Regions from separate parts of the Homo sapiens genome. Here region 1 is linked to region 2. Evidence: fine-mapped expression QTL. A gene starts in region 2. The other region holds a variant in brackets. All regions are shown on one strand. Distances are from middle to middle.

Region 1 (5,371 bases), 230 kb before region 2:
GACAGAGTGAGGGTGACAGAATGTGAACAGAGACTTTCTTTAAAGCCCCACACTTAGAAGTTACCTGTAAGCCTCACGTTGTATTACTGCTTGATGGTCCACCTTTCCCCATCTTGGTAACTCATCTGTATAAGCCCCAAATTCAAGACCTCGGTGCTCAAATGAGAGGAAGGCAGAGCACCAACCTGTCCTGATGGGTGTGTCACCCGGGCCCTCAGACTGCCCTTTATCTATGCCTGAATGAACCAAGAAGGGAATAAACTCTTAAAAATCCCAGCTGAGTGCATTGGCTCATGCCTGTAATCCCAGCACTTTGGGAGGCCGAGGTGGGTGGATCATCTGAAGTCAGGAGTTCGAGACAAGCCTGGACAACATGTCAAAACCCCATCTCTACCAAAAATACAAAAATTAGCTGTGTGCAGTTGTGCATGCCTGTAATCCCAGCTACATGCGAGGCTGAGGTGGGAGAACTGCTTGAACCTGGAAGGCAAAGGTTGCAGTCAGCCAAGATCGCACCATTTCACTCCAGCTTGGGTGACAGAGCGAGACCCATCTCAAACAAACAAACAAACAAATAAATAGAAAATCCCAAAACCAGCTGAGAGTGGCATGCAAGGTAGGAAGATGGCAGGACTCCTCCAGGCATGCAGCATTTGTGGTTTCTGAGCAGTTGGTGATGAAATCCCCGCTGTGCAGATGCCAGGCCAGAACCTTCTAAGCAACTGCACATCTCAGAGCCTCCTCCTCTGCCAGCTGTTTTCTGAAAACACCAGAGGACTCAGGTGGCAGCAAAGAATGAGAGAGCGCAAAGGCAGGTGAATAGCAGAGGCGGCAGCATGCGCTGGAGGCTGAACAAACACAGTCGGGGTGTGGAAGGGGCAAGAACCAACGAAAGGATGAAAGAGGGAAAGAGAATTGGGGGTGCCTTTAAAACAAACCTCCATTCTCCTCCTTCCTTCCATACTAATGACACATCCATGTTTTTCTTGCCCTTTTCTTCATGTTATTATCAAGACAGCAGGAGACGGATTTACAAAACGAATGATCCCATCTTAACCTTCAGCAGTTAGAAGCTAGTGTTTGAGATGGTGAAAATACCATCATGTGTACCTGGATGAAGCACTTCCAGGCAGAGTTTTTCCATGACCCCTCCTCCCTCAACTCCAGACACATCTACTCATGACACACACATCTACTCTTAGCTGAGTCTATAGAGGAAATTGCAAAATGACTCAGAACAATTTCTCACAACTTACTTTTGCAAAAGCAAAAGCAGCCACCACTGTGGAGCCGGAACTTTATCACAAGGTGAGAATCTGCTATGAGTCATGAAAGGCACAGAAAATGCCTTGAAACTCAAACACATCTTCTTTCACTCAGTACAAGGTTTTCATTGGACTACAATCTCTACGCAAGAATATTGACAGAAGGCAGCCAGGTGACGATTTCAGAACTTTGAACAATGGCAAGCATCTGAGCAGGCCTCGGTGAAGGGGATTTAATGAGTGAATGAATAATGCGACACTACACCCACCCCCCTGGGTAAATATTAAAGATCGGATGAGATTCCAGGCACCCACACAGTGGCAAGCCAAAATTAGATAGTAATTGTGCCTATTACTTCTTTAAAAGAAAAAGGGCGAACGACAACAAGGGCTTAGCTAATTTGCTGACATGGAAAGGGGAAGGGTGAAATTCACTGGCAACGCCCTTGCCGGGGAACACAGGAGCCACAGCCACCTGAGCGTCCCTTACGCTGAGCATAAAAAACACCCCTCCTAGTCCATCAGACAGCTATTTATTTTACTAAAGAGATCCATAAAAGTTTGGTTTGGGATCAAAATGTTAAAATTCTTACTCCAAAAAAAAACCCATTTTGTTCACTAATGATAGAAAATAAAACTTTCAAAATGCCAAAACATCCCAGCACGTAATGCTGCGATTGGTGTTTAACAACCTGGGTTTGCATCCATTGAAGTGCAGAGTAAAAAAAAAAAAAAAAAGAAAAAAAAATCTGGGGATGTCTAACCACCATCATCAATATAATCTATTCTGGTCTCAACCTAATAATTTATTTGCCATCTAGGGGTTGTTATTTATTTAACGTTCCTCAACATCTCTTAGCACATTAAAAAAATAAAGCATTAATAGCTAATCTCACCCAAGCAATTAGACTAAGATAAAAACAAAGTTCAAAATATCACTTGACTATATAAACACAGTGCTGTTCATATTGCAGGTACTTGATAACTGATTCTGCAATATCA[A/G]TAATATTAAGACACAGGCTAGGCTATTCAGATGTTTACTCAAAGTAAGGATCACAAACTGACGGTTCATAAATTCCTAACAGGGAAAGCTGTGAATAAACATCGTAAGACTGGGGAGCTCCCTGGAATTGTCTGCAATTTCTAACGTATGTGCATAAGCAATCTTCTGGGGACCCATAGCTTTCCTCAGATTCTCAAATGGTCTGCTTGAAATAAGTTCCTAAATAACGTAAGTGCATAAAAGAGCAGAGAGCATCTGGAAATACGGTATCTAACCATCCTGACCTTCGCATACCATTACCTGAGAAGCCTCCAAAAATCTTACAGGTTTTAGCTTCAATGAAATGCATGAAGGACAATAAACGACCGAAGCAAATTCTAATAGGGTTCTGCTAAGATTCTTCTTCTAAGCAGCTCTCCATATTCATGGGGATAAAAAGGGATATCTAGCAGAAAGCTGCTTTGGATCAGGCATTCAGGCAGAAAGACAGACAGGGAGAGACATCAGGGCAGGACAGCTGGTCAGACGGACCCTTGAGTTTCACAGATAGGGAAGTTTGACAACTTACCCAAGGATGAAGAAACGGCTCCTCAGTGTAAGACTTAGGGCAAAAAACCCATGGTTTTTTTTGTGTTTTTTTTTTTTGTTTGTTTTTTGTTTTTGAAACAGAGTCTTGCTCTGTCATCCAGGTTGGAGTACAGTGGTGCAGTCTTGGCTCACTGCAACCTCTGCCTCCTGGGCTTAAGCAGTTCTCATGCCTCAGCCTCCCGAGTAGCTGGGATTACAGGAACGAGCCACAATGCCTATCTAATTTTTGTATTTTTAGTAGAGATAGGGTCACACCATGTTGGCCAGGCTGGTCTTGAGCTCCTGGCCTCAAGTGATCCACCAGCCTCAACCTCCCAAAGTGCTGGGACTACAGGCGTGAGCCACGCCCACCCAACCCATGTGTTCTTACTCCGAGTGTACCCCATGTCGAGGTGGCTTCCCCAAAGAATAGGCAAGAACAGGCCGGGTGTGGTGGCTCACGCCTGTAATCCCAACACTTTGGGAGGCTGAAGAGTGTGGATCACCTGAGGTCAGGAGTTTGAGACCAGCCTGGCTAACATAGTGAAACCCCGTCTCTAGTAAAAATACAAAAATTAGCTGGGCATGGTGGCGTGCACCTGTGGTCCCAGGTACTGAGGAGGCTGAGGCATAAGAATTGCTTGAACCCGGGAGGCAGAGGCTACAGTGAACCAAGATCGCGCCACTGCACTCCAGCCTGGGCAACAAAGTGAGACTCCCTCTCAAAAAAACAAAAATAAATAAATAAATAAGAAGAAGAATAGGCAAGAACCTGCAAATGGTATTTACACTGAGGCTAGTTTGGCCTGAGAAATCAAACTTCCTGCTTTCTTCTCCCACAGAAAGCAAAATTATATCAAGGTCTCCATAGCTCCATCTCTAATTCAGAAGCCCAGAAAGGAAATAAAGATCTGGAAATAGAGGGCTGAGGGGCATGGAGAGGGAAGATGGAAGAAAGAGGACAGACATGGGACACTTGCCGTTCAACCCCATCTTCACTGTCATCCAGGTGGACAAAATTAAAGGGGAGACCTCAAGCAGCTCTGGCAAGAGGTCCCTTACGACCACCTAAGTTGCAGGGAGCTGGCTGATGACTCCTTGAACTTGGCTTTCTGTTTGCCTTGAAAAGGTCAAACATATCCCACTTCAAGTGTCATCTCAGACAGGATGAGAGCAAAACCATGGCACCCGCTGTTTCAATGGAGAGAAAAAGGAGAAGCCTGTATCAGAAATAAACGTGGCAAATAAAGCATTAGGTGAAGATCAGCATCTCTGCTCAGTCAAATCTTTGTGTGGCCTCAGCTCTGAGTAGTCTCCAAGTCACTTTCCTGTGCATCACTGTCCCAGCAGGATGAGGAACGGGAGTGTCATTATCTCTTCAGCAAGTTAATTTCAGAGCCAGCATTCCACCTGACAGGCCCTGATCCTCCAGCCCACCCCAGCGCAGTGATTCACACTGCAGCTCTCACAGCGCTGCTCTCTAAAACTTCTCTTTTTTACTTCTTTATTTTGTGATTCTGAAGATGACTCTGAATAATAACTTGTGTTTTTTTTTGTTTTTTTTTTTTTCAAAAAAAAAAAAAAACAAGATGAAAGAGAAAAGTCTGGAAAAGAAGAAAGCAGGGACAGAGGAAGGCAGGTAGGAAAGTACTGTGGCACAGAAAACAGCAGGGGAAAGAACCAAACACCACATGTCTCGTAAGTGGAAGCTGAACAATGAGAACCATGGACACAGGGAGGGGAACATCACACACCGGGGCCTGTAGTGGAGGTGGGGAGCTAGGAGACGGATAGCGTCAGGAGAAATACCTAAGGTAGATGATGGGTTGATGGGTGCAGCAAACCAGCGTGGCACATGTATACCTATGTAACAAACCTGCACATTCTGCACATGTATCCCAGAACTTAAAGTATAATAATAATTTTAAAAAGAGGTAAGACACGCTTGATTATTTTCTATAACTTCAAGTTTAAAACGATGTCTTCTTTTTGTCCCTAGTTTGTAATGCAAATCCCTATTTTTTCATTAAACTCTTCTCTGCCAAAAAAAAAGAGGCTGGGAAGCCAGTTGTGCTGACGAAAGTGCCTCAGTGATCCAAAGACAGAAAGGAAAGGGGAAGAAGGGCAATTGGTGACCTCCCTGCATCCTTCCAACCTCACTGTGTGCTAGGTGCCATCATCCTTACTTTCCAGATCAGGATCAGGAGACACAAGCACTGGTGGGGCCAGGCTGGCCCAGGGCTCCTGGGGTTCTTACTGTGCAGCCCGCCAGGCCTCCAGACCAGCCTCGCCAGGCTCAAGTCCCCCTGCCTTGCATGATACTCTGCTCCTAGACATACGTGTATTCCATGTTTAATAGAGAAAACACAGGCCCTCTGCCACAGCTGCAGGCAGACTCTGAGCCCCAGCCAAAGTCTCGTTCAATAACTCAACACCCCATGTCTGAGTTTTAAAAGCCTGCCTGGCAAAGGCACAGCCAGCTGAGGACTCATCAGGCAACTTCCTGTTGCTGGCAATTTCTCTTTGGCCCCAGTTA
Region 2 (5,371 bases):
TTCTTAGTTTAATTCTGTGACATCTCACTTTAGGATGGCTTAAATTCTTATATACAAAACGGCACTCCAATGCAATTTATTAGCACATGTTTATGCGAGCAAAGCTCTTTAGGGCCTTACTTGCAAGTTTCTTGCCCCCTTATCTCTCTTAGCAAATCACGATTAGACACGTAAACCTGAGTGGCTAGAAAAGTCATCAGCTGACAAAGCACCACATGTTGACACAAATCCCTGACGCCCACCCATGAATTCACACTCGCAGATTCTTCCCTGTAATCAAGGAGAAGACATCTGTCTAAGCATCATTTGAACAGCCCAGACATAAGATAAAGCAAACTGAAGCAGATTTCTGTATACTGACTTATACAAAAAAAATCTGCCCCCAAACTCTTACTTCTTTCTAGAGTTCGTGAGAAGTAATCTTTTCTGGCCGGACACGGTGGCTCATGCCTACAATCCCAGCACTTTGGGAGGCTGAGGAGGGTGGATCACTTGAGCTCAGGTGTTTGAGACCAGCCTGGGCAACATGGCGAAACCCCCTCTCTACAAAATGTTTTTAATTAGCCAGGTGTGGTGGCACGCGTCTGTAGTCCAGCTACTTGGAAGGCAGAGAAGGAAGATCAATTGAGCTGGGGAGGCTGAGGCTGCGGTGAGCTGAGATCATATCACTGCACTCCAGCCTGGTCAACAAAGGGAGATCCTGTCTCAAAAAAAAAAAAAAAAAAAAAAAAAAAAATCCATTCTTTCTTCACTCGTTCACGGAACCTAGGAACCTTAACTGAGCTCCTATTACATCAGTTGAAGTGATGGATGCTAAGTACAGTAGTGGGGATAGGCTTAGGGTCACTACTAACCCATACTGTACTTTTGGTTAAATTGCCAAATGTATCCTCTCCAATGGAGAGGAGCGCACTAGAGGCTTGGCAAGTGGAGTGTGAATCGGATTTCAGCCTCCAATTGCCTGTTGGACAAGATGACCTTGTGTAGTGAACAGCCTGAACAACTGTGCAAGGTGGCAGTGCCAGAGGTATATACAAAAATGTGTTCTAGTAGAAGCACTGACTACTGGAGGAGGAGGAGCTTAACTTCGCCTACGGATAAGGAAGAAAAGCTTCCTAGAGAAGGTATTTGACTGACACATTAAGAATGCGTGGGTAATTGACAGATGGGCAAGAGGAGTAAGAACAGTGTAAGCAGAATTTCATTCATTCCAAACAATGGTCTGGAAATAACAACTTCTGAGTAGCTTGGTGTGTCTAGAGCAGGCAGTGTGCAAGCGGGGGAGAGCCAGGAGGCCTGGGGAAAGTCAGTAGATGGAACTGGAAAGGCAGGCAGGTGCCACATTATGAAGCATCTTAGTATGGTATGTGAAGGTGTTGAAAGCTGATTCTGAGGTCATTAGGGGCGTGTTTTGCCACAGTAAATAATAAACTCTTCTTCAGTTATACCTTGCCATGTTCTTTTACATTTACCCAACACAAAAACCTCTGACACCCTAAAGCAACAAGTTTTATTTTCCTATAAAGTGAGCAGGTAAAATCCGGTGGAACAAAAGTTTGCTTACAAAACTGCACCAATCATGATACTATATTTTTAAAACATAACAATCTTAAGCACATCAGGAAATACTTCTAAGAGTGTATACACACAAGTTCTACTGGTTAAGCCCAAATTATAAAACCATGGACACTTTTTTATCCAGAGCCTAGGACTGAAACATTTATAGCATATGATCCGCACCTGTACGAAACTTGGTAAGATTTTAGAGACACTCTGGCTTAAATCTATTGGAAAGAGAACTGGAGATAGCCGGTGTTGTCTGTTAAAATAAGGTGGTCAGCATCATTTGGGGAGCAAAAGGTAGAATGTGTGAATAACCATGAGAAGAGAATCCCAGGCCCTTCATCGCATAGTAAATAAAGGTCTCACCATTACCCAAGGAGGCTGAGGAGTGTCACCAAGTGGCCTCTTGCCTGAATTCTGCAGAGAAAAGCAGGAAAACCTCCCCCTGAATGAAATTATCTTTGGAATCAAGCAGCCTTCTCCCTCTTTAAATAAAGTTAACCTATTTGTCTATTTTAAAAAAACGGCATGCAAGCTCATCAATATTAAATTTCGCCGCTCCTTAAAGATAGAAATACCTCGTGCAATGTTACTCCCAGACCTTTCCAGCGGCTGTCAGCAACGAATGGCTGGAAGAATGGACTCTTTTCTTTCTGAACTGTTTTTGGTAAATAGGATCCATTAGGGGCACAACGTGTCGGCTTTCACAGAAACTTGGCACCTCAGCCCCCCCAGGAGCCGCGCCCGTCCGGGATGGCTCCCGCGCTCGGAAAGGCCGGAGGGGCTGAGCAGGGACCGCACGGTCTACACTCGCTGAGCCGACCGCCTGGGATCCTGCTTCGCCGCAGCGCCTTTCTGAGGCTCCGAGGTCGCCGGGCGGGCGTGGGCGCAGCGGGCGCTCCCCTCCGGGCACCCACGGCTCGGCTTTGGGCGAGAACCTCGGTATCAGGAGGCCGGGGCGCCGCCTCCTCCCATCCGGGATGGGACCGGGGCTGAAAGTGGGTCCTGGCGTGTCGCGCAGCGCGAGGGGACCAGGGGACCTAGTTTCAGAGCCTTCTGGAAAGTGCTTCGTCCCCCGTGCCAGGCTGTGCCCGGACGCTGCCGCCCTCCGGGGAGAGGGTGCCAGGCCGCGCCCCGCAGCCGCGACCTTCCGCGGGACTCCCAGGAAAGCGGGGGCAGAGAGGGGCGGCCAACAAAGGGGAAGGGAGGGGACCGCCGGCCGCGCGCCGCCCCGCCCGCAGGGGACCTGGAGCCGCCGCCAACCAGCGCGGGTCGTCGCCCTCCTGCGCCCTCACCCGGGCGCCCCTTACCTCGGGTCGCGCGCCGGGCTCGGTGGGGCCGGTCGCGCGCCGCCCTCCGCTACCCTCGGCGCGTGGCCCTCGCGGGAACGCCGGGAGGAGTTGGAGAAGTTCTGGGGGTCACTTTGTTCTCCACTTGGACGCGCGCTGTGCGCCTGCGGCGGCCGCGGCCACAGTTACGGTTACCGCTGCCCCAGCCCCGCGCGCAGCGCCTGCCAGGCCCGAGCCGCGACCGCACCTCCCGCCCCGCCCCGCCCCGGACACGCCCCAGCCCCGCCCAGCGTCAGGCCCAGGACCCCCGCGCCAGCTCCCGGCTGGTCCCGGACCATGTCCCTCGCGCTTTCTTTGGAACAACACAAATAAAACAATTCAAGAAACATCGAGCACGCGCTCACTGTGAGCTGGGGGCTCTGCCCGCTACCGGGGATGCGATGCGCCAGTGCGACCCCGTCCCTTCCCCAAGGAATTTAAAGACGGCTCTTCCCGGGTCCCACCGAGGAAAGGCACGCAAAACTGAGGTCAGCGGCCGCAGAGACTTTCCATCTCCTTCCCCTTCTGAGAGGAGATGGCTTCGCAGCGGAGATGGCAATCGAGTCGGCACTCCAAGACCCAGTCGAATTGGGACTTTCCAGGTGGAGAAGCTGCGATTTTTATTATTATTTTTTCAGACTGAGTTTCGCTCTTGTTGCCCAGGCTGGAGTGCAATGGCGTGATCTCGGCTCACCGCAACCTCCGCCTCCTGGGTTGAAGCGATTCTCCTGCCTCAGCCTCCCGAGTAGCTGGGACTACAGGCACGCGCCACCACGCCCGGCTAATTTTGTATTTTTAGTAGAGATGGGGGTTTCATCATGTTAGTCAGGCTGGTCTCGAACTCCCGACCTCAGGTGATCCACCCGCCTCGGCCTCCCAAAGTGCTGGGCTTACAGGCGTGAGCCACCGCACTGGGCCAAAGCTGCGATTTTTATTAGAAAAGCCTGAGTGGCCCAGTGGGCCCAGATGCTGGGAAGGGCGAGGGAGCTAAGGAGACCCAGGAATGAAAGCTGCCTGGAATCACTCTCCTCGCCTTGAAAAAGGCTGCACCCTGGAGAGGAGAGGGAAGGGAAGGTAGATGCAGGCCATGTGTTAGGGTGGGTCCTACGAGAAGCAGCGCCCACTCAGGACTAGATGCGGAGGGTTTTCTTGGGGGAAATGGCCGTGGAACTAAATGAGGAGGGAGCCGTGAGAGCTGGAGAGGGCCGGACCTTCTGCAAATCAGAGCCCAAGTGAAGGAGGGAGGGAAGCACCCATCCCGGCCTCCCTGCAGTCTAAGAAAAGCTCAGCAAGATCATCCGTGAGCCCTTCAGCCAAAATTACGCATCATGGGGATCCCGATTCTCCCCGGAACCTGCCTGCCTTCGTGTCCATGCCGCCACCAGTCCTTGGCTGGGAGCGGCCAGGTGGGAAGGGTGGCGTTGGGCACAATCCCAGTGCTGGAGTTCAGAGCACAGCAGCCAGGGCCCTGGTCAGTTAGGTGCAGTGCGTGAATACGACCCAGTCTCCGTAACGGGAGATCCGTGGAGAACTGTGAGTCAAAAAGACAAATGAAATCAGCTTTCCCACAACACACCCAGTATCAAAAGGAAGCCTCCAGGCTTTGCGGGGATCGGACAGACCTGCTCTCCACCCTCAACCACCACAGGCTCTGTACACACCGAACTAGTAGTGACTGGCCCCTCCCACTCTGTAGGCCCTCCCCTGGTCTTGTCTGCATCTTTGCGCACTTGGCTCTGCCTAGGAAAATATCTTCCCACTCCACTCACTCTTCCATGCTCAATTCAAGCATCACCTCCAAAGACCTTTTCTTCCTTGACATTTATTTACTGTTTTGTGGGTGGGGTGGGGGGGGGCGGTGCTTGCTTTGTTTTGAGATGGAGTCTGTCTCTGTCGCCCAGGCTGGAGTGCAGCGGCACGATCTCAGCTCGCTCAACCTCCACCTCCCGGGTTCAAGTGATCCTGCCTCAGCCTCCCAAGTAGCTGGGACTACAGGCATGCACCGCCACACCCAGATAATTTCTGTACTGTTAGTAGACACGGAGTTTCACCATGTTGGCCAGGCTGGTCTCGAACCCCTGACCTCTAGTGATCTGCCCACAGCCTCCCAAAGTGTTGGGATTAGGGTGTGAGCCATGGCGCCCGGCCAACACTTATTTACTTCTTACTTCTGACTCACACCTACCACACTGAGACGGGGGGTGGGGGGGTGCTGGTATGTGTTTATTTTTCTTGCTTCTTTTATTGCATTTTTCGCACTATTTTAAAATATTTTTCTGATTATAAAAGTAACATGTTTGTTGTACAAACTTGAAAAAATATATAGAACCCAGATGGCTCTAATTCCTCTCCTCTTGTGAGACACCATCCCTTGACAGCCAAGTAACCAGAGTCTGAGCTCCCATACCACCCACGTGTGTACATATGGGTCCAACCAAGAGAGAGGCTACACAATGATTTCAACAGTGAAAGTTTAATAC

Evidence for each region.
Region 1: its variant is fine-mapped to the expression of TIAM2 in whole blood (INTERVAL, PIP above 0.99).

What each region holds. Positions count from the first base shown.
Region 1 is chr6:155,220,160-155,225,530 of GRCh38, reverse strand. All of the region lies in intron 15 of TIAM2 (TIAM Rac1 associated GEF 2), which reads right to left. Among named protein-coding and RNA genes, the nearest start is that of CLDN20, 41 kb to the left of the region's middle. RefSeq lists enhancers at 578-1,777, 4,587-5,086. The variant A/G (reference allele first, on the strand shown) is at 2,268.
Region 2 is chr6:154,992,995-154,998,365 of GRCh38, reverse strand. It overlaps TIAM2 (TIAM Rac1 associated GEF 2), which reads right to left and starts at 3,051. Exons shown (of 27, transcript NM_012454.4): 1 at 2,874-3,051. RefSeq lists enhancers at 1,944-2,549, 2,550-3,157 and silencers at 2,794-2,873, 2,964-3,103.